Linked DNA regions of Homo sapiens. The protein of the gene in region 1 purifies or fractionates together with the protein of each later gene. This does not show direct contact. Each region holds a gene or a part of one and is shown on either strand. Other genes may lie near its edges.

Evidence for each region. Proteins that work in one complex are often made in the same cells at the same time.
Region 2: the proteins of B3GALT1 (region 1) and SLC35A2 purify together in Homo sapiens (affinity purification with western blotting, with the first as the bait; one study listed by BioGRID). This does not show direct contact.

What each region holds. Positions count from the first base shown.
Region 1 is NC_000002.12:167,291,446-167,295,198, reverse strand, and holds the start of B3GALT1 (beta-1,3-galactosyltransferase 1), read right to left. Parts: upstream 2,199-3,753; 5' UTR 1,865-2,198; intron 1-1,864. UniProt on the Homo sapiens protein: Beta-1,3-galactosyltransferase that transfers galactose from UDP-alpha-D-galactose to substrates with a terminal beta-N-acetylglucosamine (beta-GlcNAc) residue. Involved in the biosynthesis of the carbohydrate moieties of glycolipids and glycoproteins.
Region 2 is NC_000023.11:48,905,665-48,908,799, reverse strand, and holds part of SLC35A2 (UDP-galactose translocator), read left to right. Parts: intron 1-2,256; coding exon 2,257-2,408; intron 2,409-3,135. UniProt on the Homo sapiens protein: Transports uridine diphosphate galactose (UDP-galactose) from the cytosol into the Golgi apparatus, functioning as an antiporter that exchanges UDP-galactose for UMP.

The DNA of each region.
Region 1 (3,753 bases):
AATCATAATAAAAAAATCCATTTACAGCACAACAATTAAGTGATGAAAACCATGAGACCATCCTTGGACCCAAAACTAACATCACTACTAGTTTATCGTAAGTTATTCATCTGCTTTAAAATAACTTAGTTGTTAAATTGGGAGAAAATAGAATCTTTACAATGAAAAATAACTATCGAAAAATGCCTGACATATTTGGACAGCTCCCTCCTGATTTTCTATAGCATTTCTATTACGTGCCTTACTTTCATTTTCTCTGGTTTACCAAATCAGAAATGAGCCCAATCAAAGTGGTTTCTGCGGTTTGGTTTTGGGTATTTTTGTTGTGTTGTGATTTGTTTTGTTTTGGGACAAAAGATCCCTCTAGTGAAAGAGATTACGGAGCTACATAACAAGAAAAATGCTGTCCCCAGTTCAAGATCCGCCTCCCTGTATTGAGCCAATTTTTGTTTTACCAAAGCTGGCAGGCAGGGAGCTGATGTTCCACCTCCATTCCCTGCTGCAACCCCAACGCCAGTCAAGTACCGGAGCCTCGCCCCATCTGAGACAGTGGGGAGAGCTCCTTAGTATTGAGGTATTTCAAGAACTTTCCTAAGCAGATACTCCCACGGAGACAAGGAGCCACATAGAAAACAATCGCCAAGAGTAAGTTTGTGCGTCCTGAGCAGGGATGGAGAACCCACTGCACTGAACTACGGAGATTCGGATCTGGCCCAGTAGCACCATCCATTTGCAGCAGCGCAAAGAATTCGCCTTCTGCGGAAGGCTTTGCAGCACGGGTGGAACTCTCAACAGCTTTATCAAATAAGATAATCTAATATGAAACAAAAACGCTCTGGAGGCAGCTGGGTACCCTAACCTGGTTACTCTGCGTGGTTAACGTGTCCTAGGTCTGATGGACCAGACCCCAGCGGGCCTGAACTTTGTCGGAAAGCGGAGCCGCCAGGCATTTGGCAGCTGCCAGAGGCGCACCAGGCCGGGTCTCAACCTGGGAGGTCAGCGGGCCAAAGCGGCCTGGGGAGGCAGTGGCCCCACCTGGACGCCGGGCCGTCGGGCGTCGGAGCCCCGCTCTGCCTCCACCAAGCTGTCCCGCTGCGCCCTACGCCGCCACCAGGCAGGAGGAGCCGCTACCAGTACCTCAGAGTGGGACTCTCCATCCTCAAGTCTGCGCTCCAGAAAAGTGTAGCAAGCCTCCCACGCGGGGCTTCAGACACCTAAAAGTCGCCACTCCCCCAAGAGTAACCTCCACCCCCACCCCCACCCCCAACTTCTCTTTCCTCCTTTTCTTCAGCAATGTGGACCAACAGTTACTTTTCCCTCTCTTCCCTTCCCCTCCGAAGTCCCCGGGGCAAAGTGGGACTTTGGGGAGCCTCGTGGAACGCGCCTCTCCCCTGGCGCGCCAGGTCCACAGCTCCTTTTAATCACCGCAATAAAGTTCAATTTGCTCGGCTCTTTACGAGCCACGGTGGACTTTCCCGTGCGCTCCGTGCGTTCTACCTCCCGCCGAGCCAACAGCATCCTACTCACTCCAGCCCAGCTTGGGTCCTTGAAGGACGTCGGGCCACGCAGAGGGGACCCACTGTTCTCGCTGCAAAGTGCCCCAAGCCGCGCGCGCGCACACACGCATCCACATCCACACTCACACAATGCCATCCCCGCGCTGTCAAAGTCTGTGAGCGCGGAAGGGAGAACGCACCAGCTGGAGCCGCACGGGCGCGGGCAGTAGCACAGCCCAGCGTCGGGACACGCAGTCCGGGTCCCAACACCTTCGTCGGGATGCCCCGGCCACCACGCGCCTCGTAACCCCCAAAGACCACGCCAGCCGTCCCGGGGGCGTCGCGGGCGCTGCCGGACAGAACCTTACCCGCGGGGCGCGTGGTCTCCGGCCGCTGGGCTGGCGCGCGGGCCACAGGGACGCTGCAGCCAGGGTCCCGAAGATGCTGCTGCTCCGCTGCCGCTGCCCCGATCCCCGGCGCCAGCATCACTTCTCTGCCGCCCCCGCCTCCTCGTGCTCCGCTCTCTCGGCCGCCCCTCCCCGGCGGCCGCCTGCAAGACCGGCAGCGCCGGCGGCGCGGCGGGGTGGGCAGCAGCAGAGGCGGCGGCGGCGCCCGCGCGAGCTCGCCCAGCTGCACTAGCCGAGCAGCCGCGGCGGCAGCCGAAGCACCCGAGCCCGGCTGCGCTTCCCCGGCGATGGCTCTGGCCTCGGCGACTGACAACGCCCGGCAGCCAATCGCTGCCTCGCCCCGCTCGGCGGGGGGAGACCAATCAGAGCGGAAGGCCCAAGGTTTTCCTCCGCCTTTGCTCAGCGGGCTTGTTTCCGGGAGAGGCAGCGACGCTGCTGGGGTTTGGGATGGGGGAGGCGCGGGAGGGGCGCAGGATGGGGGACTCGTGGCCCCGGAGCCTTAGGTGAGGAGGGAAAGCCGGGCCCGCAGGGGTGGGCCTGGGGCGCTTTCTGACCGCCAGGAGCCCGCGGCTTGGCAGGAAAGGGCGCCGCGGGGTGACTTTGTCCCCAGAGCCTCGTCCCTGCGGTTCAGCGTCTTGGCATCGCTGGGGCGAGGGGGGAGCGGGGAGGGGTCGCGGGACCCGAGTACGAACGGCGCGGCTGGAGAGCGAATCCCAGGAGGTGGTCGCCGCCTTGAAGGAATCACGCGAACAGTCACCAGACAGCGCCCCCGTCCTTCTCCCTTTGGCAGCTGAAAAGAGTACTACTTCTTAGGCTTCGAACCACTCCTCATAGTAATCAGCCACGAAGTGTCCCCAGCTAGCAAAGAGGCACACGGAGAAATGTCGGAGTTGTAGGCAGAGTGGACCTTCCCCGTCTTCCCTCCAAATAAACGCCCCTCACCTCCCCACCCCAAACGCAACAAACAAACAAACAAAAAACCTTGAGAATGGGGAAAGATAATTTAAGCAGCCACCCTAATTGGTTGGCTTCCTTTTTTTCCTTTTTCTTTGGATAATCAAGTCTGAATGTTCTAATAGTTTTTTTTAATGTGTGTTTGACTCAAACACTAGCGAAGTAATGTTATTTAGCAATAAAAGAAAAAGAAAACAAAAGCCACAAAATGTTTTTCTGCACCACTCTCCCCTAAATTGTAATGATCTTCCCTTATGGAACATTTTTAGTTTCTTTAGTACAAATATGTCTGAATGGCTCAGAGTTCTACCAATAAGTTTATATTACAATGTTCTAGTAAAAAAAAAAAAAAAAGTTGTACATGAAGGTTGTAATAAGCTTGGGACCTTCCCAAAGTGACCCTCTGATAAATAGTCATACCCACCTCACAACGTTGTTGTGAGGGTCAAAAATCAAGTGTGTATATCAGCTACATAGTTGACAAATTGCTGGAATTCAATGTGTCTTAGCTATGATGCTGAAGCTCTTCTTGCTAATTGTATTTTTAAGGGATCCTTTTTGTTTGCAATAATAATCACCCTTTTCTTCACTTACCTTACTCTTTAAAAACTCCATATATCCTGTGATCACCAAAACAAACCCTGTCTAAATTTTATTAGCATTATGAGGAAAATTTGATTGCAAAATAGATGTGTATTGCCATCTTTTAGTACTATAGAAATTATGTGCATATCATCACTGTTTTTTCCAATTCTCTTATGCCTTCCTCCCCTTCAGTAATTTGACCAATGTAGTTTGGGAGCCAGATGATCTCTTCTTAAAAGAACTGGCTGTGCTAATAGATAAGTTCATTTTTTTAAAGGCTAAAAACAGAGAATATGGACCACACCACACTA
Region 2 (3,135 bases), on another chromosome or scaffold:
CCCACCTGTTAACTCCAGGTTAACAAGAGACCTGCTCTTACCTTTGTTAACTCTGTGAACAGTGTAGGTGTGAACACTGCCTCAGGCCGTGGGGGTAGATGGGTTAGCAATGCAGAGGAGCAGCTTGTCCTCATTGCTGATGGAAGATGGAAATAACAGATAGCCACAGACTTAATCACAGGCCTTCATCTCTTAGCCACAATTTCAGCACCCCTCTCTCCCCTGCCCGGAATTTTTTTCCCCTGAATTCGAGTTTGGAGACCAGGAGTGCACAGGGTTTGGTGAATGAACATCAGTAGGAGTTCCTGGGACAACCTTGTTCAGTGTTTGAAGAAGTTTTGCCTGTGGAGTGACACCCAGCTGTGACTTAAAAGATGAACTGCTGGCTGGGCGTGGTTGCTCACGTCTGTAATCCCAGCACTTTGGGAGGCCGAGAGGCAGGTGGATCACAAGGTCAGGAGTTAGAGACCAGCCTGGCCAAGATGGTGAAACCCCGTCTCTACTAAAAATACAAAAATTATCCAGGCGCGGTGGCAGGTGCCTGTAATCCCAGCTACTAGGGAGGCTGAGGCAGGAGAATTGCTTGAACCCGGGAGGCAGAGGTTGCAGTGAGCCAAGATCACACCACTGCACTCCAGCCTGGGCGACAGAGCAAGACTCCTCACCCACCCACCCCGCCCCGCCAAAAAAAAAGATGAACTGCCAAAAAGTGGGGCGAGCTTTGCAAAGGCCTTGTTACATAGGAAATGATTCTCATGTTTTTTGTTTGTTTGTTTTGAAATGGAGTTTTGCCCTTGTTGTCTGAGCTGGAGTGCAATGGCACGATCTTGGCTCACTGCAACCTCCGCCTCCCGGGTTCAAAAGATTCTCCTGCCTCAGCCTCCTGAGTAGCTGGGATTATAGGCGCCTGCCACCACACCCGGCTAATTTTTGTATTTTTAGTAGAGACGGGGTTTCACCACGTTGGCCAGCCTGGTCTCGAACTCCTGACCTCAGGTGATCCACCCACCTTAACCTCCCAAAGTGTTGGGATTACAGGCGTGAGCCACTGCGCCCAGCCCGATTATCATGTTTTCACTGGAGCAGGTCCCAAGCGGACTTCTGCTTAATGGTCAAGCCTGCATTCATCCATGTGGCAGAGGCAACTCTGTGTCTAGGGCTGACAGAAAGATGCAACAAGGGGGAGATGGCCCCTGCCCTCAGACGGCACATGGGTCAGTGAGGAGCTAGGATAAGTCTAAAAGTCTAGACTATGCCTGGTGTGGTGGCTTACACCTGTAATCCCAGAACTTTGGGAGGCCGAGGTAGGCGGATCACGAGGTCAGGAGATCAAGACCATCGTGGCTAACACGGTGAAGCCCCATCTCTACTAAAGATACAAAAAATTAGCTGGGAGTGGTGGCACGCGCCTGTAGTCCAAGCTACTTGGGAGGCTGAGGCAGGAGAATGGCTTGAACCTGGGAGGTGGAGCTTGCAGTGAGCCGAGATCGCGCCACTGTGCCAAAAAAAAAAAAAGTCTAGACTAAACTCTTCTGTGTGGGAGACAGCCCTCCACCCCAGCTCCTAGGGCTTCTATTTCATAAGCTCCAAGTTAATGATGGTTATTTCTTTCTTTCTTTTTTTTTTTTTTTGAGATGGAGTCTCACTCTGTTGCCCAGGCTGGAGTGCAATGGCATGGTCTCAGCTCACTGCAACCTCCACCTCCCAGGTTCAAGCAATTCTCCTGCCTCAGCCTCCCAAGTAGCTGGGATTACAGTCGCTTGCCACCACACCTGGCTAATTTTTGTATTTTTAGTAGAGATAGGGTTTCAGTGTTGTTGGCCCAGCTGGTCTTGAACTCCTAACCTCATGAGCCACCTGCCTTGGCCTCCCAAAGTGCTGGGATTACAGGCGTGAGCCACGGCACCTGGCCTAATGCTGGTTATTTCATTGTACACAAATATATTGAGTATTGAGTGCTTTCCCTGAATGGGGCTCTCTGCCAGGGAGGTAGGCTCTAACATGAGTGACATGCTCTGTGATTAGCAGACACGGATGGCTGATTCTTTTGCTGCCATTAAACTGAGTCTCAGAAAAGCTTGCTGGAAACATGGTTGTACTCTAGGGAAAACCAAGATCACATACTTCATTCCAGCCTCCAGGGATTGGACAGCAGGGTGGATGGGGGAGTCACAGGAGCAAGGCCTGTTCCCAGCCTTCAGGGGTTCCCCATGTATGGCTGTCAGTGCTAAGAAGGGCTCTCCTCCTCCCACCTAGGTAACGTGAAGCACCTGGTTCTCTTCCTCCATGAGGCTGTCCTGGTGCAGTATGTGGACACGCTCAAGCTCGCAGTGCCCTCTCTCATCTACACCTTGCAGAATAACCTCCAGTATGTTGCCATCTCTAACCTACCAGCTGCCACTTTCCAGGTGAGCCCCAAGCCCAGCATGGCCCCAGAGGAACTAACTGGGTTGGGGACTGGAGTATGGGAATAGCGTGGTGGGGGGGTGTTGCAGAGGACAGGGGCTATGTCACCTTCAGAATGTCCTTGGAACTCCTTCAACCTCCCTTTTCTCGTCTGTGAAAATTGGGGGTGGAAATAGTAATGCCTGTTCACTGAGATGCTAGGATACTTAAAAGAAATAATACCTGTGAAGAGCCCTTGATTGGTGACAGATAAGCTTTAGGCTATTTGTGGGCAGCTTTGTGAAATGGTTAAAGAGCCTGGATTCTGGGGCCAGGCTGTCTGGGTTCAAATCTCAGCTCTGCTACCTTCCAGCTGTGTGATTTTGGGGCACGTCACCTAACCTCTCTGTGCCTTAGTTTTCTCACCTTTAAATTGGGGCTTACAGTGGTGCTCACTTCAGAATGGTGTTGTGAGAATTAAATGAATGAATTCACGTGCAGTGCCTAGAACCACACTGATATATTGTAAGCACTATGTAAGTATTTGCTGACATTGTTGTGGCTATTGATTCATTTGTATCAAGTCCCTCATCACAAAGATACTTCCATACCTCAGCCATCTTTTATAGATGATGATGCCAGGGCTCAGACAGGGCAAGTGCTTTGTCCCCAGTCACACAGCCAGGAAATGGGATTGGGATGTGGACTTCTTGGCACAGCCATCCTTTTGTGCACTTGCTGGGAGAGACT